Regions from separate parts of the Homo sapiens genome. Here region 2 is linked to region 1. Evidence: fine-mapped expression QTL. Tissue or cell type: esophagus mucosa. Region 1 holds a variant in brackets; the other region holds the start of a gene. All regions are shown on one strand. Distances are from middle to middle.

Evidence for each region. PIP is the estimated chance that this variant, and not a neighbour inherited with it, causes the effect.
Region 2: it holds the start of CPNE8, and the variant in region 1 is fine-mapped to the expression of CPNE8 in esophagus mucosa (GTEx, PIP above 0.99).

The regions. Positions count from the first base shown.
Region 1 is chr12:38,348,116-38,356,301 of GRCh38, forward strand. No RefSeq gene overlaps it. Among named protein-coding and RNA genes, the nearest start is that of ALG10B, 35 kb to the left of the region's middle. RefSeq lists an enhancer at 2,635-2,714. The variant A/G (reference allele first, on the strand shown) is at 4,903.
Region 2 is chr12:38,901,645-38,909,830 of GRCh38, forward strand. CPNE8 (copine 8) reads right to left here and starts at 3,947. Exons shown (of 20, transcript NM_153634.3): 1 at 3,793-3,947. The coding sequence starts at 3,890. CPNE8-AS1 (CPNE8 antisense RNA 1) reads left to right here and starts at 4,068. Exons shown (of 2, transcript XR_007063275.1): 1 at 4,068-5,353; 2 at 7,666-7,948. RefSeq lists a silencer at 3,932-4,101 and an enhancer at 5,232-5,491.

The DNA of each region.
Region 1 (8,186 bases):
AGAACAAATCTGAATGCATCACACTACCTGATTTTAAACTATACTACAAGGCCATAGTCACCAAAACAGCATGGTACTGGTACAAAAATAGGCACATAGACCAATGGAATAGAATAGTGAACCAAGAAATAAACCCAAATACTTACAGCCTGCTGATCTTCAACAAACCAAACCAAAACAGTAAGTGGGGAAAGGACACCCTTTTCAACAAATGGTGCTGGGATAATTGGCTAGCTACAAGTAGGAGAATGAAACTGGATCCTCAGCTCTCACCTTGTACAAAAAGCAACTCAAGATGGATTAAGGGCTTAAATCTAAGACCTGAAACTATAAAAATTCTAGAAGATAACATTGGAAAAACCCTTTTAGACATTGGCTTAGGCAAGGATTTCATGAGCAAGAACCCAAAAGCAAATGCAATAAAAACAAAGATAAATAGCTGGGACTTAATTAAGCTAAAGAGCCTTTTGCACAGCAAAAGGAACAATCAGCAGAGTAAACAGGCAATCCACAAAGTGGGAGAAAATCTTCACAATTTATACATCTGACAAAGGACTAATATCCAGGATCTACAATGAACTCAAACAAATCAGTAAGAAAAAAACAAACAATCCCATCAAAAAGTGGGCTAAGGACCTGAATAGACAATTCTCAAAGAAGATATACAAATGGCCAAAAAACATGAAAAACTCCTCTGCATCACGAATTATCAGGGGAATGCAAATCAAAACCACAATGCAGTACCTCCTTCCTCCTGCAAGAATGGACATAATCGAAAAATCAAAAAAACAGTAGCTGTTGGTGTGGATGGGGTGATCAGGGAACACTTCTACACTGCTGGTGGGAATGTAAACTAGTACAGCCACTATGGAAAACAGTGGGGAGATTCCTTAAAGAACTAAAATTAGAACTACCATTTGATCCAGCAATCCCACTACTGGGTATCTACCCAGAGAAAAAGAAGAATGAATTAACAGCATTTGCAGCAAACTGGGTGAGACTGGAGACTATTATTCTAAGTGAAGTGACTCAGGAATGGAAAACCAAACATTGTATGTTCTCACTGATATGTGGGAGCTAAGCTATGAGGATGCAAAGGCATAAGAATGATACAATGGACTTTGGGGACTTGGGGGGAAGAGTGGTAGAGGGGCAAGGGATAAAAGGCTACAAATAGGGTGCAATGTATACTGTTTGGATGATGGGTGCACTAAAATCTCACAAATCACCACTAAAGAACATGCTCATGTAACCAAATATCACCTGTATCCCAATAACCTATGGAAAAAATATAAAAAGAAGGAAACAGCTAAGCAATGTGTTGAGAAAAGAGTATTTCAATGAGAGAGAACTTAAATGCAAAGACCATGAGATCTGTACAGATGTTATCTCCTTTATCCTCACTATGTTTCTGTAAGGGAGGTAGTGTTAGGCAAATTTTATAGATAGCAAAATGGAACCACAGAACTAACACACATAAGATCACTTTGTCAGCTAGCAAACAGGATGCCATGATATGAGCTCAGGAGTCTTTGACCACCACCAGCCTTCTCTTTCTGCACCCCCATGCTGCTTCGTGGGATCTAAAGCGCAACTTAAATGCATGTCCCTGCAAGGAATTCCAGAGGAAGAGAGGTTCCTATCCCAAATATAGGTAAATCTCCTAGATGGTTCTGGTTCTTTGTTTTCTTTCCACTAATCAATATGCAAGAAAGACTTATTTGGATCTATTTGTTTATTAATTCATTCAATAGATTTTTTGAGTGTCATTGCATAAACGTACTATTTGCATTTAAAATTCAGAATGCAGCCATGGTAAATAGTATGAACTATTTTCTTTCAAGGAATTGAGAGTGGTTTTGTTTTTAGTATATTGTCTGGAAATCCTAGCCGTATAATCCACTTTACCAAAAGTTACATGGAAGGATATAAAACTATTATAGATTAAAAGTCTTCCTGTCAGTTGGCTGAAAATTATCTGTAACATTTAATATGTGACTCTGTTTGGAAAAAAATATAGCCAACCACCTTTTTAATCCTCTTTTCGATGTTTTGGGAAACATAAAGTTGGGATCTTTTCATTCATTTGCAAAATAAAACAGTATTTTTTAAGGCATTGATTTATATTTCATTTAAGGCATTGAATTGTTTTATTATTGAGCCTGTCTCTGAACTCTGAGAAATTCCAAGGGAAAGAATTAAAGATCTTCAATTCAGTCTTGCCTAAATCTACTATTTTCAACCAACTTTTTTTCTGCTGTGCTTTCTTGCGTATTTTCTTAATGGATAGATAGGACAATGGTACAGCAGAAATAATGAATGTTTATCTACCACTTCCATTAAATATGTCAATGCTTTTATGAAAGGAAATCTATGGTTACTTAAGCCAATGCCTGCACTTAGTACTCAGCCATAACCGTTCTCATACCTGGAATCTAAAGAGGTAGCATCAGTAATCTGTACACACTAAGTACTTAATATTGCTCAGTGGAAAGAGAAATGCTGTTATATATTACTCTACATTTTTCATAGTCTTTATAATGTTTTATATCCAAATGTATCATTATGTAGTTTCACTGATCAGTAAGAGAGCTAGATCGTGTAAGCTTTATAAGAACGTTGGCTTTTACTCAAAGGGGATGAGAAACTATCAGGGGATTTTGAGTAGGGATGACATCATCTGGCCTTTGTTTTTTAACAGAACAAATCTGGCTGCTGTTATGAGTGTAGACCAAAGGCTGGATGGATAGAAATGAGGAAATGAGATAGGAGGCAGAGCAGTAATTTTGGTGGCAGGTCATAGTGCCTTTGTATAGGGTAACAGAATATGCTAGAGCCTAGAATACAGGCATCAAGCTGTTATGAGCTTGGCATTTTTACCACTGTATCCCCAGGGTGTGGAATCATTTCTGGAGTATAGCAGGAGCTCAGTAATTCTTGCTGCATGCATGAATGGATGGATAGACTGACAGTTTTTCACACTTATGTCTTCTCCCCATCTGTTTATTACTTAAGTTTTAACATCTAAGCTACTTGCCTCATCCTCACAGTTTTTAAACTAAAGCAAAAGTGAAACAAAAGCAAAACAGCCAAGTTTCTTCTAAATTTAATTGAATTCAACAAGTCTTTTTTTAAAGCACTTTTATGTGGTTTCTTTGGGCTATTAAGGATATCAAATGCCAACAGAATGTTCTAAGACTGTTAGATGAGATTGTTGCTTAGGGTCACAGCTATGCCACAGCACCACAATTTACTTTAAAATTAAGATTGCTACATAGTTTTAATTTCCTCCTCAGAAGGGCAATAACCTTTCAATGAATCAGACTCGGCTTTTTCTGCTTACTATAAATGGGACCATGTGACCATTACATTACAAAGTGCATAAATGGCAGGCTATATTAGAAAAGTTTGGGGACAAGGAGCACAAGAATGTATTGGGCACATAACCTTTTTGTGTGATAAAGAAGATAAATAAGAAGACATGCAAACAGATGTGTTGATACATATAAAGAAACACTGAATAGATATAGAAGCAACTAAAAAGGCTGATTGCAAGGCTCAGGAGATAAATTGGATGGACAGGGCAAACTTTTTGTTTTCAATTTTTTTTTTATACTTTAAGTTCTAGGGTACATGTGCACAATGTGCAGGTTTGTTACATATGTATAGATGTGCCATGTTGGTGTGCTGCACCCATTAACTCCTCATTTACATTAGGTATATCTCCTAATGCTTTCCCTCCCCACTCCCCAAACCCCATGACAGGCCCCAGTGTGTGATGTTCCCTTTCCTGTGTCTAAGTGTTCTCATTGTTCATTTCCCACCTATGAGTGAGAACATGCGGTGTTTGGTTTTTTTTCTTGGGATAGTTTGCTGAGAATGATGGTTTCCAGCTTAATCCATGTCCCTACAAAGGACATGAACTCATCCTTTTTTACGGCTGTATAGTATTCCATGGTGTATATGTGTCACATTTTCTTTTTTTTTTTTTTTGTATTTCCACTGTTTTATTTTAAAAAATGAGTAATTTATTATAAGTATATTTAGGTATCACTGTTTTGTCTAATCTTTTATTTTATTTTATTATTATTATACTTTAAGTTTTAGGGTACATGTGCACAATGTGCAGGTTAGTTACATATGTATACCTGCGCCATGCTGGTGTGCTGCACCCATTAACTCATCATTTAGCATTAGGTATATCTCCTAAAGCTATCCCTCCCCCCTCCCCCCACCCCACAACAGTCCCCAGAGTGTGATGTTCCCCTTCCTGTGTCCATGTGTTCTCATTCTTCAATTCCCACCTATGAGTGAGAATATGCAGTGTTTGGTTTTTTGTTCTTATGATAGTTTACTGAGAATGATGATTTCCAATTTCATCCATGTCCCTACAAAGGACATGAACTCATCTTTTTTTATGGCTGCATAGTATTCCATGGTGTATATGTGCCACATTTTCTTAATCCAGTCTATCATTGTTGGACATTTGGGTTGGTTCCAAGTCTTTGCTATTGTGAATAGTGCCTCAATAAACATATGTGTGCATGTGCCTTTATAGCAGCATGATTTATAATCCTTTGGGTATATACCCAGTAATGGGATGACTGGGTCAAATGGTATTTCTAGTTCTAGATCCTTGAGGAATCGCCACACTGACTTCCACAATGGTTGAACTAGTTTACAGTCCCACCAACAGTGTAAAAGTGTTCCTATTTCTCCACATCCTCTTCAGCACCTGTTGTTTCCTCACTTTTTAATGATCGCCATTCTAACTGGTGTGAGATAGTATCTCAGTGAGGTTTGGTTTGCATTTCTCTGATGGCCAGTGATGATGAGCATTTTTTGATGTGTCTGTTGGCTGCATAAATGTCTTCTTTTGAGAAGTGTCTGTTCATATCCTTC[A/G]CCCACTTTGTGATGAGGTTGTTTTTTTCTTGTAAATTTGTTTGAGTTCTTTGTACATTCTGGATATTAGCCCTTTGTCAGATGAGTAGATTGCAAAAATTTTCTCCCATTCTGTAGGTTGCCTGTTCACTTATGGTAGTTTCTTTTGCTGTGCAAAAGCTCTTTAGTTTAATTAGATCCCATTTGTCAACTTTGGCTTTTGTTGCCATTGCTTTTGCTGTTTTAAACATGAAACCCTTGCCCATGCCTATGTCCTGAATGGTATTACCTAGGTTTTCTTCTAGCGTTTTTATGGTTTTAGGTCTAACATTTAAGTCTTTAATCCATCTTGAATTAATTTTTGTATAAGGTGTAAGGAAGGGATCCAGTTTCAGCTTTCTACGTATGGCTAGCCAGTTTTCCCAGCATCATTTATTAAATAGGGAATCCTTTCCCTATTGCTTGTTTTTGCCAGATTTGTCAAAGATCAGATGGTTGTAGATATATGGTGTTATTTCTGAGGGCTCTGTTCTGTTCCATTGGTCTATATCTCTGTTTTGGTACCAGTACCATGCTGTTTTGGTTACTATAGCCTTATAATATAGTTTGAAGTCAGGTAGCCTGATGCCTCCAGCTTTGTCCTTTTTGCTTAGGATTGTCTTGGCAATGTGGGCTCTTTTTTGGTTCTATATGAACTTTAAAGTAGTTTTTCCAATTCTGTGAAGAAAGTCATTGTTAGCTTGATAGGGATGGCATTGAATCTATAAATTACCTTGGGCAGTATGGCCATTTTTATGATATTGATTCTTCATACCCATGAGCATGGAATGTTCTTCCATTTGTTTGTATCCTCTTTTATTTCTTTGAGCAGTGGTTTGTTGTTCTCCTTGAAGAGGTCTTTCACATCCCTTGTAAGTTGGATTCCTAGGTATTTTATTCTCTTTGAAGCAATTGTGAATGGGAGTTCACTCATGATTTGGCTGTTTGTCTGTTACTGGTGTATAAGAATGCTTGTGATTTTTGCACATTGATTTTGTATCCTGAGACTTTGCTGAAGTTGCTTATCGGCTTAAGGAGATTTTGGGCTGCGATGATGGGGTTTTCTAAATATGCAATCATGTCAGCTGCAAACAGGGACAATTTAACTTCCTCTTTTCTTAACTGAATACCCTTTATTTCCTTCTCCTACCTGATTCCCCTGGCCAGAACTTCCAACACTGTGTTGAATAGGAGTGGTGAGAGGGGATATCCAACAGGGCAAACTTTTTAATAGATTTTTTATATCATTTTGATGATCATGTAAATTATTACCTATTTAATGAGTATATAAATAAATAAAAATGACATCTTTTAAATAGCTGTGGGGGGCAAGGGGGTGGGGACAGTAGGGAAGAAGGGCCTAGGGAAACTTGAAGTGAAACAAGTGTTCATTTTGTCACTTTTCCAGCCCTCATCAACTGCATTTGGAGCTGAGACTTCTCAGATGAAGTGTATGTATGTAAACATTAGTAAATAATAACCAATCACATTTTGTTCATCTTTTTTTCTTAAGGAATAAAGAAGCCTATGTTCATGAGAATGCTGATTCTTAAAGGGCTAGAAAGGCCAGTTGAAAAAGGCTAATCTGTAGAGATGCCTGGGAATTCTTTGATCTTTTTGGAGGCTAAAAGAAGTAAAATTCTGCTATGGAAATTGTCCTATTATATTTCTGCTTTCAAGAAGGGGCTACAAGATTATGAGGTTTTGCAACATTGCCCTCCTAGTCCTGTGTACATTGCTGTAAAGACTCCCAGGCATGGAGGCCATCAATGGCACTGTTTCTCTTAGCAGTTATTTGGGTGTGAAGTTCCTCACTCCTGCAAGGCTCAGCCTGAAGCAGCATGTCTACATGACCCACCTGCAGAATCTCCCCACTTGTCAGTAACAGCTGTGAAATCTGTCCCTGTTGTCTTTAGGTAAGAAATTTCACCAATGACAGTAACACCTTGCTCTTGTGTAGAGTTTTATATTTTTCAAAATGTTTTGACCTGTGTTATTTCTTCTTATGTATTCAGAGAAACTGAAAGATGGAAAAGATCTCAGATGCTGTGACCCCGATGTAACAGATGGAGAAATTGAATCCAAGAGATGAAGTGACCACTTTGCCTAAAATCAAATAGCCATGTAGCAGCCGAGCTAAAACAAACATTCAGTCCTCCTGAATCCTAACTCAGTGATTTGTCTTACTATTACATAATAACATCCATTGTTTTCCTGAGTCTCCCCTATCATTTTATTATTCTTCTTGACCCATTCATATTAGTTTTTTTCTTTTATGGGTTAAAGGTGACCTTAATCAAAATTTGATACTTACATAAGTATGATATAAAATAACTTATATCTATATTTAATAATTTCTTATTTTAGTTGATGCTTTCAAAAATTGCCAGAAAACAGATTATTTTTGCCACCAAGCAGTTACAGTTTCATCTTCATGTTCCCTCTCTTAACATGCTGAAAAATTAAGCATAAATAGAAATGCTAATTAGAGTTGTCTTCCTTGTCAATGCTATGATTTATATTTGACCTGTTTCCTATCAGATTTGCCACAAGCTAGAATCTTCTGAGCATTTCTCCCTCATATATGTTCTCTACCAGTCAGCAGACACTAATAAAGGGTATCAAAATCCTGGCAAGAAAATGTTTCTTAAAGTAGTAGCTGATGCTAGACACTAAGTAAGTCAAGTTTCCTATTGCATAGTGAAAGAGAAAAAAAGCTTTTATGTCTAAATTCAGTTTTAGTAAAAGGGAAAGCCTTATATCCAGGTCAAGGTCCAATCCACTAAGATTTGAATCTATTGAGGTATTGTATCTTAGAATTCAGAGCTTGGCATGCTTAATATTTAGAAACACTTTAAAAAGTTAAAAGCATTGCACAGTTAGAGTGACATCACTGCAAAGGTGAATATTTTCAAAGGATTCTGATTCCATTTTGACAGCTTTCTTTACTTGACATTCATAGGCTCCACACTTACTAAGGGCTGACTTGGTACCACAGCACTAAAAGGTACATCCTCTGGTTATTAAAAGGAGTATGATGAAAAGTATTACTTGGGAGCATGTGGGACTTCCTCTTGATTGATAAATAAAATACTGTTTTCCTCCCTTACTGATAATCTCACTCCGTGTTGCCAATATTATAGCAGTTTTCTGTATGATTTCTTACTTGAAAATGCTATGGTAGAAGTGAGAGTCTGAGTTTTTTCCTGGCTCACTCTTAAATGTATCCCCAATATCTCTTTCATTTTCTAAATTGGGGAGGAAAT
Region 2 (8,186 bases), 550 kb after region 1:
AGGTCAAATAGCAGGAGCTTGCCTTTGCATAAATACATCTAGAAAAGGGTACCTCTCACCCCCTTAACACAAATTTAAGTGGCTATAAATTTAACCACTGTCCCTTCTCTAATCCAAACCATGCCTATCCAGCTTGTCTCTGCCCAAGCCCCATCTCTCCCCTTTGTAATATACTCCAAGCACCCTATTCCACAATGATCCTTTCCCTCCTCATGCATGAGCCTCATCTTTGAATTTAGCCCCGTTACCGTGTCTTATGTAGTGTTTATCTCTCAATCAGATTTTACATTTTCAGAGAACTTCTTTTGCATTTCTCATGGACCCTAGCATAAACATAGACATATAAAAGGCACTCAGACACTTGATGAATAAACAGACTAAATTATTTCCATGAATTATATTCAAGCTTCAATCGTTTATCTTTTTCACCTTCCCCAAAATGAAGATAAAAACTTTGTCATAAAGCTTTTAATGATAGGGGACAGTGAAAGGAGGTGAAAGAAAGGAAATGAAGAAAAGAAAAGGAAAGGAAAGAGAAAAAAGAAAAGAGAAAGAGAAAAGAAAGAAAGAAAGAGAAAGAGAAAGAAGGAAAGAAAGAAAGAAAGAAAGAAAAAAGAAAGAAAGAAAAAGAAAAGAAAGAAGGAAGGAAGGAAAGGAAGGAAGGAAGGAAGGAAAGAAAGAAAGAAAGAAAGAAAGAAAGAAAGAAAGAAAGAAAGAAAGAAAGAAAGAAAGAAAGAAAAGAAAGAAAGAGAAAGAAAGAAAGAAAGAAAGAAAAAGAAAGAAAGAAAGAAAGGAGAGAGAGAAAGAAAGATAAAGAATGAGAAAGAAAGAACCTATTCAAATCTGAGCTGCTTTTGAAGTGTGGGCAAATCCTCAGAAGTCTCTGGTATAGTAAGGCAAGGGAATTCCTTACTCTGCCTGCCCATAGCAAGGCTCAGAGGCCTTCAACTGTGCTTTGTTGCTAAGTGAAATCCCCACAACCTTTCTACAAAACATGTTCTTGATGCACATCAAAGAAGATAGAGAAAGCGGGAACAGGTATCCCAATGCTGGTTCTATCCTTGTGTTCTTTAACCAACTTATTGAAGTTCAAAAGAGAAGGACTTTTACAGAATTCCATACCTGAATCATATATAACACATTTATTCAACAAATGTTATTTCCAGTATTATAATAATAGCTAACATTTTTGAAAACATGTTTTTGTTTCATGCATTGTGTAAGCGCTTTCACACATCACCTTGATAACACTCTATATAAGGTAAATACCATAACTATTCTTATTTTTGGAGATGAGAATGCTTAGACAGACTGAATAAGAACTTACTCCAAGGTAGCAAGAACAAGTCACAAAGCCAGAATTTGTACTTAGGTCTCTGATGCCAAAGCCCAAACTAAACCACCTCCTATGGTTACAAGATCCAACAATACTCAAATATTTTTATCTTTGAATTTTAATGTATTAAAAATAAATTTAACCCACCTTTTCAGGAACTATTCCCAAACCTATTCCAAAGGCACTAACTTGGGTATTTAATTATGTTTCTCTTTGCCCAAAAGATGCTTTTTACCTCAAACTTATCGTAAATAGTAAGCTGAGTCAGAAGCAACTCAAACAATAGACTAAGCACTAGTGCCCCTGGCAGAGATGCTTGACACTAAGTATTCAGGTTCTCTTTCAGGATTTTTTTTTCCTGTTAGAAATCTTAAAAATTAAAAACAAAATGTCAAAGCAATGTTATGAAAAAAAGCTGGAACAAGGGATTTGCAGGTTCTGAGGCAGCAAACTGAAACAAATTGCCTTAAGCCAATTGACTTCAGTATGCCCAGCACACTCACAGAAAACATGCATCAAAAAAGGGGCTGCATTAAACATGGGCCCTACTGGCAGAATGACCAGTTTAGGTATAATTTCCCTTAAAAAGCTCATGGAAAAATTCAGACTTGATTGACAATATTCTTTTATATTCATTCCAAGTATAGGCCACATGCCATTCAGACTTTGCAGACTGTTGAGCAGAGGATAAGAACTCTAGTAATGCTGTTATTGTAGGACTTCCGGCTATCCATTATCTGTATATACCAGTAACTTCCCTCTAACATCGAAAGCAAGCTTCAGAGAAAAGAAAAAGGCCTAGGAATCCTCTAAAGAGTTTTCCAAACAGCTTCACCTGTTCCATTGACAGAAAAATCTCAGGCAGCACTTAAAGCAGTGACAGCAATGAGGCAAGAGCTTAATGATAGCTATCATTATCAGCATGATTATTTCCATAGTCCCAGATCAGTCTTAAGAGGCGGCAAACAATCAGGTGATATAGTTTCAGGGCTAGATAAAGGCTGTCCCCTACCCTCAAATAATACTTCTACTACGGTTGCTGGTGCTCGAATTTTCACCCCCAGAAAAGAATTCCTTTGGCTTTAGGCTCAGTTTGTGAAAATGCAAAGTCAAGATTGATGGAATTTTAAACTTATTTACATCAAGATCACCCAAATTTGTTAGATATCTTCAAGGCAAGTTTGCTAAGGAAAGGAAAGGGAGGATGTGAGGGCATAAAAACAATCTTAGGGCAAAAATGGATAAATGAGGAGCCAGTTTTCCAGTGAGACAGACCCAATTATGCAAACAAGGGAGTGGGCTCCAGGGTCAATATTAATTCGCAAATTAGTGGCCAGTACCAATTTAGCACCATCGCTCATCTCCTTCTCAAAATCATCTATGATATAGCGGTGATGCTGCTTTATTTACAGGGCAACTAACCGAAAGGTCAGGACAACGAGTTTGCAATTTACAGTCTCTGGACAGGGTTGAAAGTCAGTTTTTTTTTGTTTTTTTTTTTTTTTTGAGATGGAGTCTTGCGCTGTCGCCCAGGCTGGAGTGCAATGGCAAGATCTCAGCTCATTGCAACATCCACATCCCGGGTTCAAGCGATTCTCCTGTCTCAGTCTCCCGAGTAGCTGGGACTACAGGCGCGTGCCACCACGTCCGGCTAATTTTTGCATTTTTAGTAGAGACGGAGTTTCACCATATTGGCCAGGCTGGTCTCGAACTCCTGACCTCGTGATCCACCCGCCTTGGCCTCCCAAAGTGCTGGGAATACAGGCGTATAAACTGTACTGAGCCACTGCGCCCGGCCGAGAGTCAGTTTTTACAAGCACTCAGATGTGGGCCCGAAAACAAATCAAAACAAAAGTCGTGACTTCCCAGATCTTAGGTAAGGCATAGATTCGTCTGCAAGGAGGGCCGAAATCTCTACCTATCAGGCAAAAGGCAAAAAGCCCGGAAGGGTCGGGGAGAAGCAAGCTGGAAGGCTCCAGGAAGTGGGTGGGGAGGAAGCTGCCGGGGTTGGAGCCAACCCTAGCAACAGCAGGTTTGCACACGCCTAGCAGAGGAAGTCCCGGGCCTAAGCGTGCAGCGGTCACAAGAGCTTTTGGCAGTGCTGTCCCCTTCGATTCCGGTCATCACCCAACCATCCAGCCCGGGTTTGGGGCGGAAAACCGGCTTGTAAAGTGGGCGGCGGCCGGTGTTCCCACAGCTGAGTCACAGCCCAGCCAACTTTTACAGCGTTTCCCAGAAAGAAAATACAAAGTCTCAGTCCCGGAGCCCACCGCTTCTAATTCCCGCTCCCCTGTGTCACCTGACCCGGGGTAACTCCAGCCCCACTACTGAGATATTTCCCACTCATGGCGCAACTTCTTGCCTGCGCAAAGCCTCGTGGTACCCCGAGCGCTCTCCAAGTGCTACCAACCCCACAGATGAGAGGGCAGGAGAGAGGGGAAGGGCTGCGTCCTCACCTGCAGGACACGGACACCTCCACCCGCGTGGCCGGGATGGCAGCGCTCAGCTGGTTCAAGTCCCCGATGCCCGCAGTGCTGTTGTAGCGGCTGTCCATATTGGGAGGAGGCGCCTTGGACTTGTCCGGCGCCCACAACCACAGCTCGGGCGGACTGAGGGCTAGCTCCCGTCAGGCGGGGATGGGGGTTGAGGGTGGAGGCAGAAGAAGGAGGCGGAGGCAGCGCGCGGGATGGGGGAGGGAAGGGAGGAGGCGGACCTCCGCGCAGAGCCACGAGGGAACCGCTAGCCAGTCCTGGGTGAAACTGACGCTGCCAGGCAAGTGGCGCGCGGGGATCCCGGTTTCCCAGCCCCCTTCCGGCAGGCAGCAGCCCGGGCGGGGGACACACTCCGTGATCCCCTCCTGGCTGGAGGGGTCAGGCTTGGTGGACCCAGCAAGCAGCCTGATGGAGAAGGTGGCACCAGACGCAGACCCCTACCGTCCAGGACCGCAAGCCCTCGCCGGCTCTGCGTGCTTTTAGGTTTTGTCTCCACCTCTGCACACCCACACTCGCCTCCTGGGCCGCGACAGCTTCCTTCTGTCAATCAGGTGTGGACGGGAAGGTCTCGAAGTTTCCTCGCCTGAGTTGAAAGCTGGAGGTGGGGGCACCTCTGCCCGTTCCTAACTGCCCCGTTATAAGGTCCCCCTCCCCACAATTGGTTCTCACCTCGCCCTCGGAGCTCTTGGGAGATCCCTCCGTCCCTCCTACTGTGCCCTCGGGCAGATGAGTCTGGTCCCAGCTTCTGGACTGCCCACTGTCGGCCACTTGAGAGTTGGGGACGGTGGGGCATTGTGACGCTCTCCAACCTTGGAACACGGTGGCAAAGTGGCCGATCAATATATGGGACAAGTGGGGGCGGGGGGGCGGACTCTAAGGTGGAAAAAACAATACTACTTGGGATTTAAGGAAGCAATCTGGATTCTGTCTCCCCTTGGTTCTTCGGAGCTTAGAGGTCTAACGGCGACATTCCTCCTACAGTAAGGGCTCTTCTGGGTCCCTCGTTTCCAAAGGCATGAAAGTTCTGACCTGAAAATGGGGGCCGGGGAGGGTGATGTCACAACCATATAACGCAGCTCCTTCAGCCGACTCCCACCCGCAAGAACTGAGACCTGACGGATAAAAGCAGAGAGGAGTCAGAGTGAGCGCTGCGTTTGGGAAACTGCATTCCAGGGCAGCAAGACTGGTGCCAAGACGGAGTCGTGGCAAAAGCATCCGGAGGTAGACGAGGCGCCCCTCCACTGCAGGGACCTTTGTTCCCCGCGCCTTCCCTCCTGCCTCACCCGAGCGCCTGCGGGTCCCGGGAGCTCGCCACCAGGCGGCGACGGAGAACAGGATGCGGCGCAGCTGGAAGGCAGAGGGTGGAGAGGGGGCGGGTGTCCGTCCGATTTAACGCTCCAAGCACGGAGTTTCCAGCTGGTTGGGCTAAGTCTGGGAGGAGCAGTTTTTGCGGTGGAGGACTTGCCTTGCGTTGTAACATTTTAATCCACTTGCAGCCTCCTGCCTAGAGAATCTATAGAGGCGGGTGAGAGTGTGTAGGTGCAGTCTTGCCGATTCCCCTGCCGAGTGTACTTCCCCTGTTTCTTCTTGCTTTCCTTTCCTGATTTCCCCACCCACCGCTTTTTCTTCTTTTTTTTTCCTTCCTCTTGTCCTATTACAAATTAAACTGTAGTTTACTGCGATTTGGAAATGCCCTAAAACCCCAGGCATTTCTATTATGCTGCTCAAAGTTAATTTGGCATAGAGATCTAGGTTTTTTTTTAAGCTCACCAGAATTTTACTTTACAGAAGCCTACTGAAGAGATGAAACTTGAGAACTTTAGTAGTCAACATGTGGGATACTTACATCCAATTTGTTTCCACTTCAGTGAGGTATAACATATATAATGAACTGCACTTAAAGTGCATCCATCATTCGATAAATGTTGACTCATGTATCTCCCTGTGAAGCCATCACCAAAATCAAAATAATGAATCATTCCATCACCCAAAAGTTTTCTTACGTCGTAATCAGTACCTCCTTTCATCACTGAAACAACCCTCTAAGCAACCACTGATCTTTATGTCACTATAGAAGAGTTTGCATTTTTAAAAATTATGTATGTGGAATCATAAAGCAGGTAGTATTTTTGGTCTGGCTTCTTCCACTAAGCAAAGTTCTTTTGAGATTCATCTATGTTAGCATCAATAGTTCATTCTACTTTTTAAATATTTATTCATATATACAAAGAAATAAATTTTTAATTTATTTTAAATTAATAAATTTCATTTATTTAATGAAATAAATTTTTAATTTATTTCATTGTATATATGCGCTATAAATTGTCCATTCACCTGATGATGGACACTTTGGTTGTTCGAACTTTGGGCAATTACAAATGAAACTGATATGAACATATATGTACAACTCTTTCTGTGGACGTATGTTTTCATTACTTCTGGGTAAGTACCTAGGAGTGGAACAGCTGGATCATATGGAATGTGTATGTTTAACTTTTTAAGAAACTATTAAGGCCAGGTGCGGTGGCTCATGCCTGTAATCCCAGCGCTTTGGGAGGGTGAGGTGGGCGGATCATGAGGTCAAGAGATCGAGACCATCCTGGCTAACGTGGTGAAACCCTGTCTCTACCAAAAATACAAAAATTAGCCGGGCATGGTGGTGTGCGCCTATAGTCCCAGCTACTCCGGAGGCTGAGGCAGGAGAATCTCTTGAACCCCTGAGGCAGAGGTTTCAGTGAGTGGAGATTGATCGCGCCACTGCACTCCAGCCTAGGGACAGAGCGAGACTCTGTCTCAAAAAGAAAAAGAAACTATTAAACTTTTTTTTCAAAAGAGTTTTACTACTTTTCTTTACCACAACAGTATATAAGAGATCTGGTTGCACACATCCTTGCCAACATTTATGATGGTCTTTTAAATTTTAGCTTATCTAACAGATGTGTAGTAATATCTCATGTGGCTTCATGACAAATGATGTTGAACGTATTTTCCTATGTCTTTTTGCTATGTGTATACGTATCTTCTTTGGTGAAGTGTCTTCATATATTTTACTTATTTTTTTATTATGTTGTTGGTTTTCTTATTTCTGAGTTTTGAGAATTCTTTATTCTGTATCCAAGACCTTTATCGCATGTGGTTTACAAAATATTTTCTGACAGTCTGTGGCTTGTGTTTTCATTCTCCTGTCTATCAAAGAGAAGAAGTTTCTAATTTTGATGAATCTAGTTCTTCAACGTTATCTATTATAAATCATAATATTGATGTCAAAACTAAGAAATATTTGTCTAATGTGAGATCACAAAAATTATCATCTTCTATACTTTCCCCTAAAATTTTAGTTTTAGGTTTTACGTTTATCTCTATAATTTATTTTGGTTTTTCTAATCAAAGTTCTCATTTTTACACATTGTCATCAGATTTTGCTAGCACCATTTGTTGAAAATACTACCCTTTTTCATTGAAAAATCTTTGCATCCTTTGCCAAAAATTAACATATATCTATGAGTCCATTTTTTAGACTCTATCCTATTCCATTTACCTATTTGTCTTTCTTTAAGCCAATGCCACAGAGTCTTGATTACTATAGCTTTAAAATAACTCTTAAAGTCAGGTAGTATAAATTTTCCAACTTTGATCCTCTTCAAAATTGTTTTTTCATTTTTAATCCTTCTCATTTTCATATAAATTTTAGAATCAGCTAGACAAGGTCCACAAAAAGTCTTGTTGAGATTTTCATTGGGGTTGCATTGATTCTATGGACAAATCAGAGAATAATTGACATCTGATCCAAATTTATCTTCTGATCTATGAACATTATATATCTTTCCATTTATTTAGGTCTTCCTTAATATATGTCAGCAGTGGAGTGGTGTGCTTAAGGAGAGAGAGACTTGGAAAAATACAGACCGAGAACAAGGCCATGTGGAGATAGAGGCAGAGACTGAAGTTGTACCACCAAAGGCAAAGAATATCAAGTATTATCAGTAACCACAGGAAGCTGGAAGAGGCCAGGAAAGGTTTTTCTTAGAGACCTTGGAAGGAGCCTGACCCTGGAACACCTTGATTTTAGACTTCTGACCCTCAAAATTGTGAAAGAATAAATTTCTGTTGTTTTAAGCAATTCGGCTTGCAGTAATTTGTTACAGCAGCCCTAAGAAAAGTAATACATATCGATAACATTTATTATTTCCATTTTGCTGACTCTTTCAAGTTCTGTGCTTATAAATTCATCATAGTGAAGTAAGCTTTAAATGATAAAACTTTGAAAGTATACTCAAATTCTGTTGCTATAGTTAGCACAATACAGAAAGGAATATAATTTTTAAAAATAAATTTTAATAATATAAATATAAATTATG